Regions from separate parts of the Homo sapiens genome. Here region 1 is linked to region 2. Evidence: fine-mapped expression QTL. A gene starts in region 2. The other region holds a variant in brackets. All regions are shown on one strand. Distances are between the middles of the regions.

The links. PIP is the estimated chance that this variant, and not a neighbour inherited with it, causes the effect.
Region 1: its variant is the best candidate, but not a certain one, in a credible set for the expression of LILRB4 in whole blood (TOPMed, PIP 0.61).

The regions. Positions count from the first base shown.
Region 1 is chr19:54,270,140-54,274,531 of GRCh38, forward strand. It overlaps LILRB2 (leukocyte immunoglobulin like receptor B2), which reads right to left. Exons shown (of 14, transcript NM_001080978.4): 14 at 3,673-4,392. Among named protein-coding and RNA genes, the nearest start is that of LILRB2, 8.8 kb to the right of the region's middle. The variant C/T (reference allele first, on the strand shown) is at 2,104.
Region 2 is chr19:54,660,279-54,664,670 of GRCh38, forward strand. LILRB4 (leukocyte immunoglobulin like receptor B4) reads left to right here and starts at 2,707. Exons shown (of 12, transcript NM_001278426.4): 1 at 2,707-2,789; 2 at 3,254-3,289; 3 at 3,476-3,760; 4 at 3,908-4,207. The coding sequence starts at 2,756.

The DNA of each region.
Region 1 (4,392 bases), 390 kb before region 2:
GGGGAACAGGTGGTGTTTGGTTACGTGGATAAGCTCTTTAGTGGTGATTTTTGAGATTTTGGTGCATTCATCACCCGAGCAGTGTACACTGCACCCAATGTGTAGTCTTTTATCGCTCATCCCCCTCCCATTGTTCCCTGTGAGTCCCCAGATTCCATTATATCCTTCTTATGCCTTTGCATCCTCATAGTTTAGCTCCCACTTATGAGACCATATGATGTTTGGTTTTCCATTTCTGAATTACTTCACTTGGAATAATGGTCTCCAACTGCATCTAGGTTGCTGCGAATGCCATTATTTTGTCCCTTTTTGTGGCTGAGTAGTATTCCGTGCTGTGTGTGTGTATATACACACATACACATACATGTTTTTCATATGTTTGTGGACCGTTCGTATATCTTCTTTTGAGAGTTGTCACAAAGGGAATTGGATTTGGAGGGAACAATTTTATGGCCATTTTTCAGTATAATCATCGGGTGAAGACAGTGTCTGTTCGGCCAGTGTCGCTTTAATCCATTACCTGTAGCCAGGAAGGGAGACGTTTATCGCAGAGATAGGCACCAACCTGGAATGCTTTCCTCAAAGGCGATTAACTGTAGTGTGAACCCGAAATTTCACCGCAGTTTGGTCCTGATTTGGCACAAGATATGCTTTATCCACTGATGTGAAATGTCCAGGTGTTTTTTTGTACGGTTTTGTTGCTGAAAGACACAATACCCTCTAATCTAAGGCATCCTCTCCAAATCCCACTGAACAATACCCTCTAATCTAAGGCATCCTCTCCAAATCCCACTGAGGCACAGGAGTGACACTAGAGAGGGGGTCACGGAGCTTCCTGAGAGAGATTCGCCTCCTGAACCCTGGGCAGATCCTCCCCACCTTGGGATCTCTGTGAACCTCTGGGGTCTTCTATTCAATCAGGACCAAGTTGTGAGGTGGGATTCCTTCCAGGCTACAGTCTCCCCTCTCCCTCTTTCAATTTTATCAAGACAGATCAGAGGTTTGTGGGAGGGAGTCATGGCGTCTCCTCCACAGCCCCCAGCTGTGCAGATGGATGAGGCCACCGTTCCTGGATGGAGTAAATCTACTGGGAACCTGGGTTCTCCATCACGAGGTTGTCCCGTCATCAGCCCCAAAAGAAGGGGAACTGCCCTCTCCGGGAGCTTGACTTTCATTTCCCCAAGGCTGGGACTGGGGCAGGCACCAGGCTGTCTTCAGATACTTCATACAGAAATGGTATCTCCCTGACCCTTTTCTGCGATTTGCCTCATCTGTCCTCATCTCATCAAGGGTCAGGACGTAGGAGCCGATAGACCCAGCACCTTTCTGAGTCTGTCCTGTCCAAGTGAGGGTGAGTGGGGGCTTGTTCTTCTTCTCAGAGCCTCCCTGTGGGGTCCTCTTCCCTCCTTCAGCCTGTCCATCAACACAGCATTGCGGGATCCTTACCATGGCATCCAGCCCTGGAGATGCTTCAGGAAAGTTGCAGGTCCATGCTGCAGGACAGGCTCAGATCAGCAGAGACGCATCTCACATCGGGCTGTGAAATTCAAGTTGAGCTGCAATTGGCAATGAGAAGAAAAAAGGAGAAATAAAGAAATGCTGACTCTTCTTTTGTCTTTGGAGTATGGGTTTTATTTCTTCCAGTTTCCTTCTTAGACTTCCCTTCTTTTTTTTCTTCCTATTTTTTTTAATAGTGTTCAGGTCCCCCTCCCTTAAAAGTAACCTCTGAGTCATTCCTGCCTCCTTGGCGTCCCTCCCACCCCCAGCCCCGCTTCCTTGGGCATTCCCCTGCATCTCAGTCTGCCTTCAAGGTTTTGGGAACAAGTACTTGTCTTGAGCTCTGATTTGGGGGTGGGATAGGGAGTTAATTTTTTCTGAATTGCTCACCTTCATCCCTGCGTGCATGACCTTGGGCAGTAAGTCCCATCTCTGAGCCTCGGTTTCCTCATTTGGAGCCTGTTGTCATGAACCCCCCTCCTGAGTGGTTTTGGGGGCCAGTGGTGCCTGGGTCATGGGAGGGCCTCAGTCATGGTACATTTCCAGACCGGGTTAAGTCTTGGGGGTTGAAACATGAGTGGATCCTGGTGTTGGACTGCACAGTCA[C/T]GGTGAGTGACTTATGTGCTCAACAGCCCACATCTGCTCCTAACACTGGGAAAACCTACTTATAATGTGTCTGAAATATGTAGCCATGGTCCAATGAAGAAAATGAGAAATGAGACTTCCTGTCATAGGCAGGAAACCTTAAGAAGCAGAAGATGCCAGCGCCGAGGGGCTGCTGGTGACTTGCAAAGCTGGGGGTCACTAAGGGGGAGGTTTCTGCCTCTGTATGAGACAGAGGAGAACCCCAGGGCCCTCACAGACAGGGAGGGGTCGGGGTTTTGGATGAAAGTGGGAAGTTGTGGCTCCTTCTCCCCTGTGTTTGTGGATGGCACTGGGATATCTCTGCTCATTGACTCAGGTCCATGGTCAGCCCTGAGCCGCCTCCTCCATGTGTGTGAAACAGATTCACTGCAGCGTTGTCACACATGGGCGTCTGTCCCACATGCGAGTCTGAGGCTCACACTGGACCCTCCCTGCTGGTTACAGCCCTGAGTAGACTCATGTGGCACTGGCAGGTGGAACCATCTCCCCTTTTCCAGCCTTAACTCCCAGCACAGCCCTGGTGGAAACCCTCTCTGGAAGATGAGGCATGTGGGAAGCATGTGTCCAAAAATGACAAGGAGAAGGAATTATCCTAATGATCAAAAGTGCTATGATGGGCCAGGCACCGTGGCTCATGCCTGCAGTCCCAGCACTTTGGGAGGTCAAGGCGGGCGGGTCACTTGGGCCCAGGAGTTCAAGACCAGCCTGGGCAACATGGCAAAACCTCATCTCTACAAGAAATACAAAAATTAGCTGGATGTGGTGTCATGAATAATGGCCTCCAGCTCATCCAGGTTGCTGCAAAACTCAATCCCTTGTACATCAGTTGCAAAAAATTAAAAATATCTAAGAATATACCTAACTGAGGAGGTGAAAGATCTCTACAAGAAGAACAACAAAATGCTGCAGAAAGAAATCGTAGATGACACAGCAAAATAGAAATATATCCCATGCTCATGGATTGGCAGAATCAATATTGTGAAAATGATCACACTTCCCAAAGCAATATTTAGGTTCAATGCAATTCCCATCAAAATATCAACATCATTTTTTTCACAGAATTAGAAAAAAATCCTAAAATTCATATGGAACCAAAAAGAGGATGAATACCAAAGCAATCTTAAGCAAAAAGACAAATGTAAATTTAATAAACATATCCTAGGCTGAATTGTAGGGGGTTTGTTTTTGCTCACTTCAACCTCCACCTCCCGGGTTCATTCAAGTGATCCTCCTGCCTCTGCCTCCCAAGTAGCTGGGATTGCAGCGTGCGCCACCATGTCCAGCTAATTTTTGTATTTTTAGTAGAGATGGGGTTTTGCCTTGTTGGCCATGCTGGTCTTGAACTCCCGGCCTCAAGTAATCTGTGGCCTCTGCCTCCCTAGGTGTTGAGATTACAGGCGTGAGCCACCGCACCCGGGCACATTGCCTCTTTTTCTATTCTCAAGAAACATTTGTGATGCTCTGGGTGTGTTTGTGTGTTTCATTAGTGCGTCAATATTTGTAAGAAATCACCAGTGAAACTTCCTGAACTGGAGTTGATACGATGGGAACATTTTTATTACAGTCAATGTTTTTCACACACACACACACACACACACACACACATATATATACACACACATACACACACATTTAAAATGAGTCAGATTCTCTGATTACTCTTACGTTCATTATGTAAACTCCAGTTTTGAATATTTCATCCATTTAATCTGCATTTTCTAGTATATTGGTATAGGTTTGCAGCCTGTTCTGGGGTTAGTTTGTGAAAATGTGTGTAGGATCTGCTGGGCTGTCTGCTGGCTCACTCCCATATGGAAATGCGTGCCTGCTCTTTCTTTCTCTTGCTCAATGTAGTTAGGATTTATGACTGTAATTAATATTTTCAAGAATGAGCTTCATTGGCTTTGTTGAATTTTCAAGTTTTGGTTTTTCCTCATGAGCAACTCTTCTTCTTCTTATTCCCTTTCTTACACCTTCATTTGGAATAATTGGTTATTCTTTTTCTAAATTCCTTATACGAAAGCCAACGTCATTCATTTCCTAGTTTTTTTTTTTCGTTTCTACTTTTTTCATTTGTGGTTTGTACTTTTTCAATTTCATTGTGTGATGTGTAATATTTATATTGTGATTCAGTTTAAAGCACATTCTTACTTCTGATTTTAGTTTTCTCGGTTAACTCATTGATTATTGAGAAGTCTGTTGCTTTAATTAAAAAATGTAGGGATATTAGTTATTTCGACTGCAGAATCA
Region 2 (4,392 bases):
TCTACTAAAAATACAAAAGTTAGCCGGGTGTGGTGGCAGCTGCCTGTAATCTCAGCTCTCAGCTACTCGGGAGGCTGAGTTAGGAGAATTGTTTGAACCCAGGAGGCCGAGGTTGCAGTAAGCCAAGATTGCACCACTGCACTCCAGCCTGGATGACAGAGTGTCACCCTGTCACAAAAAAAAAAAAAAAAAAGAAGCAAAATACAAGAAGTCCAGGACTGGTAAAGGCAAGGCATGTTGAGCGGTTAGAAAAGGGGTGATGACATCGAAAAACCTCCTGGCATTTCCCAGTCCTTGCCTAGCACAGGTTACTCTGAAAGCAGGACTTAAGACAAGGATATGAGCGCAGGTAACTGATTTGGGAACCAAGTTTAAGGGAATAGGGTTCCCTTATGAAAGAGAGAAGGAGAGGAATTCCTGAAATCAGCATGCATTGCGGACACCACTACAGCAGGTAATATGGACAGGTCCACACCAGGATCTCTGATAATGTGCAGACCATCATCCAGAACTTCCCGCCAAAACAGGAGATACTCGCCAATATGTGTATGGCTTTCTAGCCCCCATTTCTGGGAGTTTCTTTTTCCCCAGCCACTGTCAGACGCATCAAGCTTTGGCTGAAATAGCTTCCAATAAGGTCCTTACACACAAATGTGGAGAGACACATGGAAATCCTCGAAATGAGATACTGTCCCGTGATTCTGAGAGTGACCCAAAAGGATACGGAATGAGGTACTAAAAGCAGGTGCTTGGAAACCTGAGGGCAGTGGTGTTCATGCGTTTCCCGGCACTTTGACTTTCAGCCTCCTGCAAGCCTCTCCTTCTTTGCCTTCCTGACCGTTAGATACAATTAATTTGGGGTTTGTTTTTTCTGCTTCCTCTTTCCCCTCCCACCCTATGTTTCAGTTCTAAAGTTAGAAGGTCCTCTCATCCTTTTAAGAAGAACAGAGACAGAAAATGGTTAGTCACCATCTAGGACAGACTACAATTCCAGATCATTGCAGGACGTGCCCACTCAAATGGATGATTATTGAGAGCTGGCCACCTGAAGTGTTTTACACAGGCAGTGATCTAAGGGTTGAAGCTATCTGGCCTTTTTGCTTGCTTGTTATGTATTTATGGCTTTTTTCCTTTTCAAAATAATTTTACTAAATATTTAATTCACCAACTATATATATTTATGGGGTACAATGTGTTATAAATGTATACACTGTGGAATGATGGAATCAAGACAGTTAACATGTCCATCACTCCGCATACTAACATCTGTGAAAACATTTAAAATCTATGCTTGGCTGGGCGTGGTGGCTCATGCCTGTAACCCCAGCAACTTTGAGAGGCTGAGATGGGCGGATCACCAGAGGTCAGGAGTTCGAGACCGGCCTGGCCAACATGGTGAAACCCCATCTCTATTAAAAATACAAAAATTAGCTGTGAGTGGTGGCGGGTGCCTGTAATCCCAGCTACACAGGAGGCTAAAGCAGGAGAGTCTCCTGAACCCAGGAGGCGGAGGTTGCAGTGAGCTGAGATCACACCACAGCACTCTAGCCTGGGCGACAGAGTGAGACTGCATCTCAGAAAAGAAAAAATATATATATATATTTTGGAGCTACATCGTGCTAGCGCTGCAGAGAATGAGTTTTGTTTTGCGACACAGTTTTTAGATGTCTACCGGGCTCTGGTGGAGATGGAATGTTTGGCCTCAAGTGGGCAGGTCCCATGGGACATGAGTAGCCGACCATGACCTGGCTGCGTACTGGCCCACCAAGCATTCGACTGGCGTGCCCAGCCACTCTCCGTCATCGCAGAGAAGTGCTCTATGTGAGATTTGGTTAAAGGAGTCCCTGAAGGCCTGTGGGAGGCAGAATAGTGACCTCCCAGAGATGTCCACCTCCTGAGGCCCAGACCCTGTGAGTTGGGGAAGCTTATGTGGCAAAAGGGACTTTGCAGATGTGATTAAGTCAAGGATCTTGGGTTGGGGAGATTACCCAGGTGGGCCTGATGTAATCACAAGGGGCTGAGTAAGTGAAAGAGGAAGACAGGAGGGTCAGAGTGAGAGAAGGAGGTGAGTGCATGGAAGCAGGGGGCAGATAACGGGACTGGTGGCTTTGAGGTTGGAGGGAATGGAGAGGCAGGAATGCGGGAGCCTGCAGAGGCTTGAACAGGCGAGGGAACAGATTCTCCTTGGAGCCTCCAGGAGGACACGGCTCTGATAGCAGCTTCATTTTAGCCCAGGGAGACCCATTTTGGACTTGTGACCTCCGGGACGGTAAGTCAATAAACCTACATTATGTGAAGCCACTAAGCTTGTGGTGATTTGTTATGGCAGCAAAAGGAAGCTTTATGGTTCATCTGTACCCTGAAAATGCAGGTTTTTGGTTTTTTTTTTTTTTCACTTGTTCAATGATGTACCCCCAGTGTCAGGCGCTTTGCAAACACACGATACATACGGGTTGATGTTTGGTCAAGAGAGGAATTAAGACCAGGCAGACAGCAGGCTGGGATCAGAGAGACCCCATTTCTGTCTGAAATGTCTGCAGAGAACCTGGTGCCTGCCTCAGCCCTAGCTCTGGGGAAATGAAAGCCAGGCTGGGGTTCAAATGAGGGCAGTTTCCCTTCCTGTGGGCTGCTGATGGAACAACCCCATGACGAGAAGGACCCAGCCTCCAAGCGGCCACACCCTGTGTGTCTCTTTGTCCTGCCGGCACTGAGGACTCATCCATCTGCACAGCTGGGGCCCCTGGGAGGAGACGCCATGATCCCCACCTTCACGGCTCTGCTCTGCCTCGGTGAGATTTAAAGAGGGGGAGGGGAGACCCGAGTCTTGGAGGAAATTTGCCTCACAGCCAGGCCCTGGTTCTTTAGGAGACTCAAAAATCTCAGGGTAGCCGGGCGCGGTGGCTCACGCCTGTAATCCCAGCACTTTGGGAGGCCGAGGCGGGCGGATCACGAGGTCAGGAGATCGAGACCATCCTGGCTAACACGGTGAAACCCTGTCTCTACTAAAAATACAAAAAATTAGCCGGGGGTGGTTGCAGGCGCCTGTGGTCCCAGCCACTCGGGAGGCTGAGGCAGGAGAATGGCGTGAACCCGGGAGGCGGAGCTTGCAGTGAGCCAAGATCGCACCACCGCACTCCAGCCTGGGTGACAGCGAGACTCCGTCTCAAAAAAAAAAAAAAAAAAAAATCTCAGGGTAAAGAGAGGACCTGCTCAGGCTTCCGGGGCAAATCCCTCACAGGGAACTCTCTTCCAGGGCTGAGTCTGGGCCCCAGGACCCACATGCAGGCAGGTGAGTCTGTCCCCAGCTGTCCCAGGTCCCTCCTCCTCACTGGGACAAGGGGCCACCCATGGGCAGCTGGGGGAGGAGACAGCAGTTCTGGGTGACTGATGAGGATGACGGGGGGGTCCTGGGGCTGAGAGCTGGGATCTGAGGGCTGAGGAAGGTCTTGGGATCCAGCCTCTGATTTTCTTCCAGGGCCCCTCCCCAAACCCACCCTCTGGGCTGAGCCAGGCTCTGTGATCAGCTGGGGGAACTCTGTGACCATCTGGTGTCAGGGGACCCTGGAGGCTCGGGAGTACCGTCTGGATAAAGAGGAAAGCCCAGCACCCTGGGACAGACAGAACCCACTGGAGCCCAAGAACAAGGCCAGATTCTCCATCCCATCCATGACAGAGGACTATGCAGGGAGATACCGCTGTTACTATCGCAGCCCTGTAGGCTGGTCACAGCCCAGTGACCCCCTGGAGCTGGTGATGACAGGTGAGAGGACACTCAGGGGTCCCAGCCCCAGGCTCTGCCCTCAGGAAGGGGGTCAGCTCTCAGGGGCATCTCCCTCTCACAGCCCAGCCCTGGGGATGATGTGGGAGGTGGGAGCCCCATTTAACACGGTGCCTCCTTCTCTCCTAGGAGCCTACAGTAAACCCACCCTTTCAGCCCTGCCGAGTCCTCTTGTGACCTCAGGAAAGAGCGTGACCCTGCTGTGTCAGTCACGGAGCCCAATGGACACTTTTCTTCTGATCAAGGAGCGGGCAGCCCATCCCCTACTGCATCTGAGATCAGAGCACGGAGCTCAGCAGCACCAGGCTGAATTCCCCATGAGTCCTGTGACCTCAGTGCACGGGGGGACCTACAGGTGCTTCAGCTCACACGGCTTCTCCCACTACCTGCTGTCACACCCCAGTGACCCCCTGGAGCTCATAGTCTCAGGTGAGGCTCCTGACCCTGTCCTCTCTGAGCTCAGTGGCTCCGTTCATGCCCTGCTGCCAGGAGAGCTCTGGGCAGGGATGGAGGGAGAGGGGCTCAGCCAGTGGGGGACTCAGCCCTCAGAGGGGAGGAGGACAACAGGGGCCCTCCCAGGCATGCCCATGCTCTTCTCCCTCACCTAGGGTCCA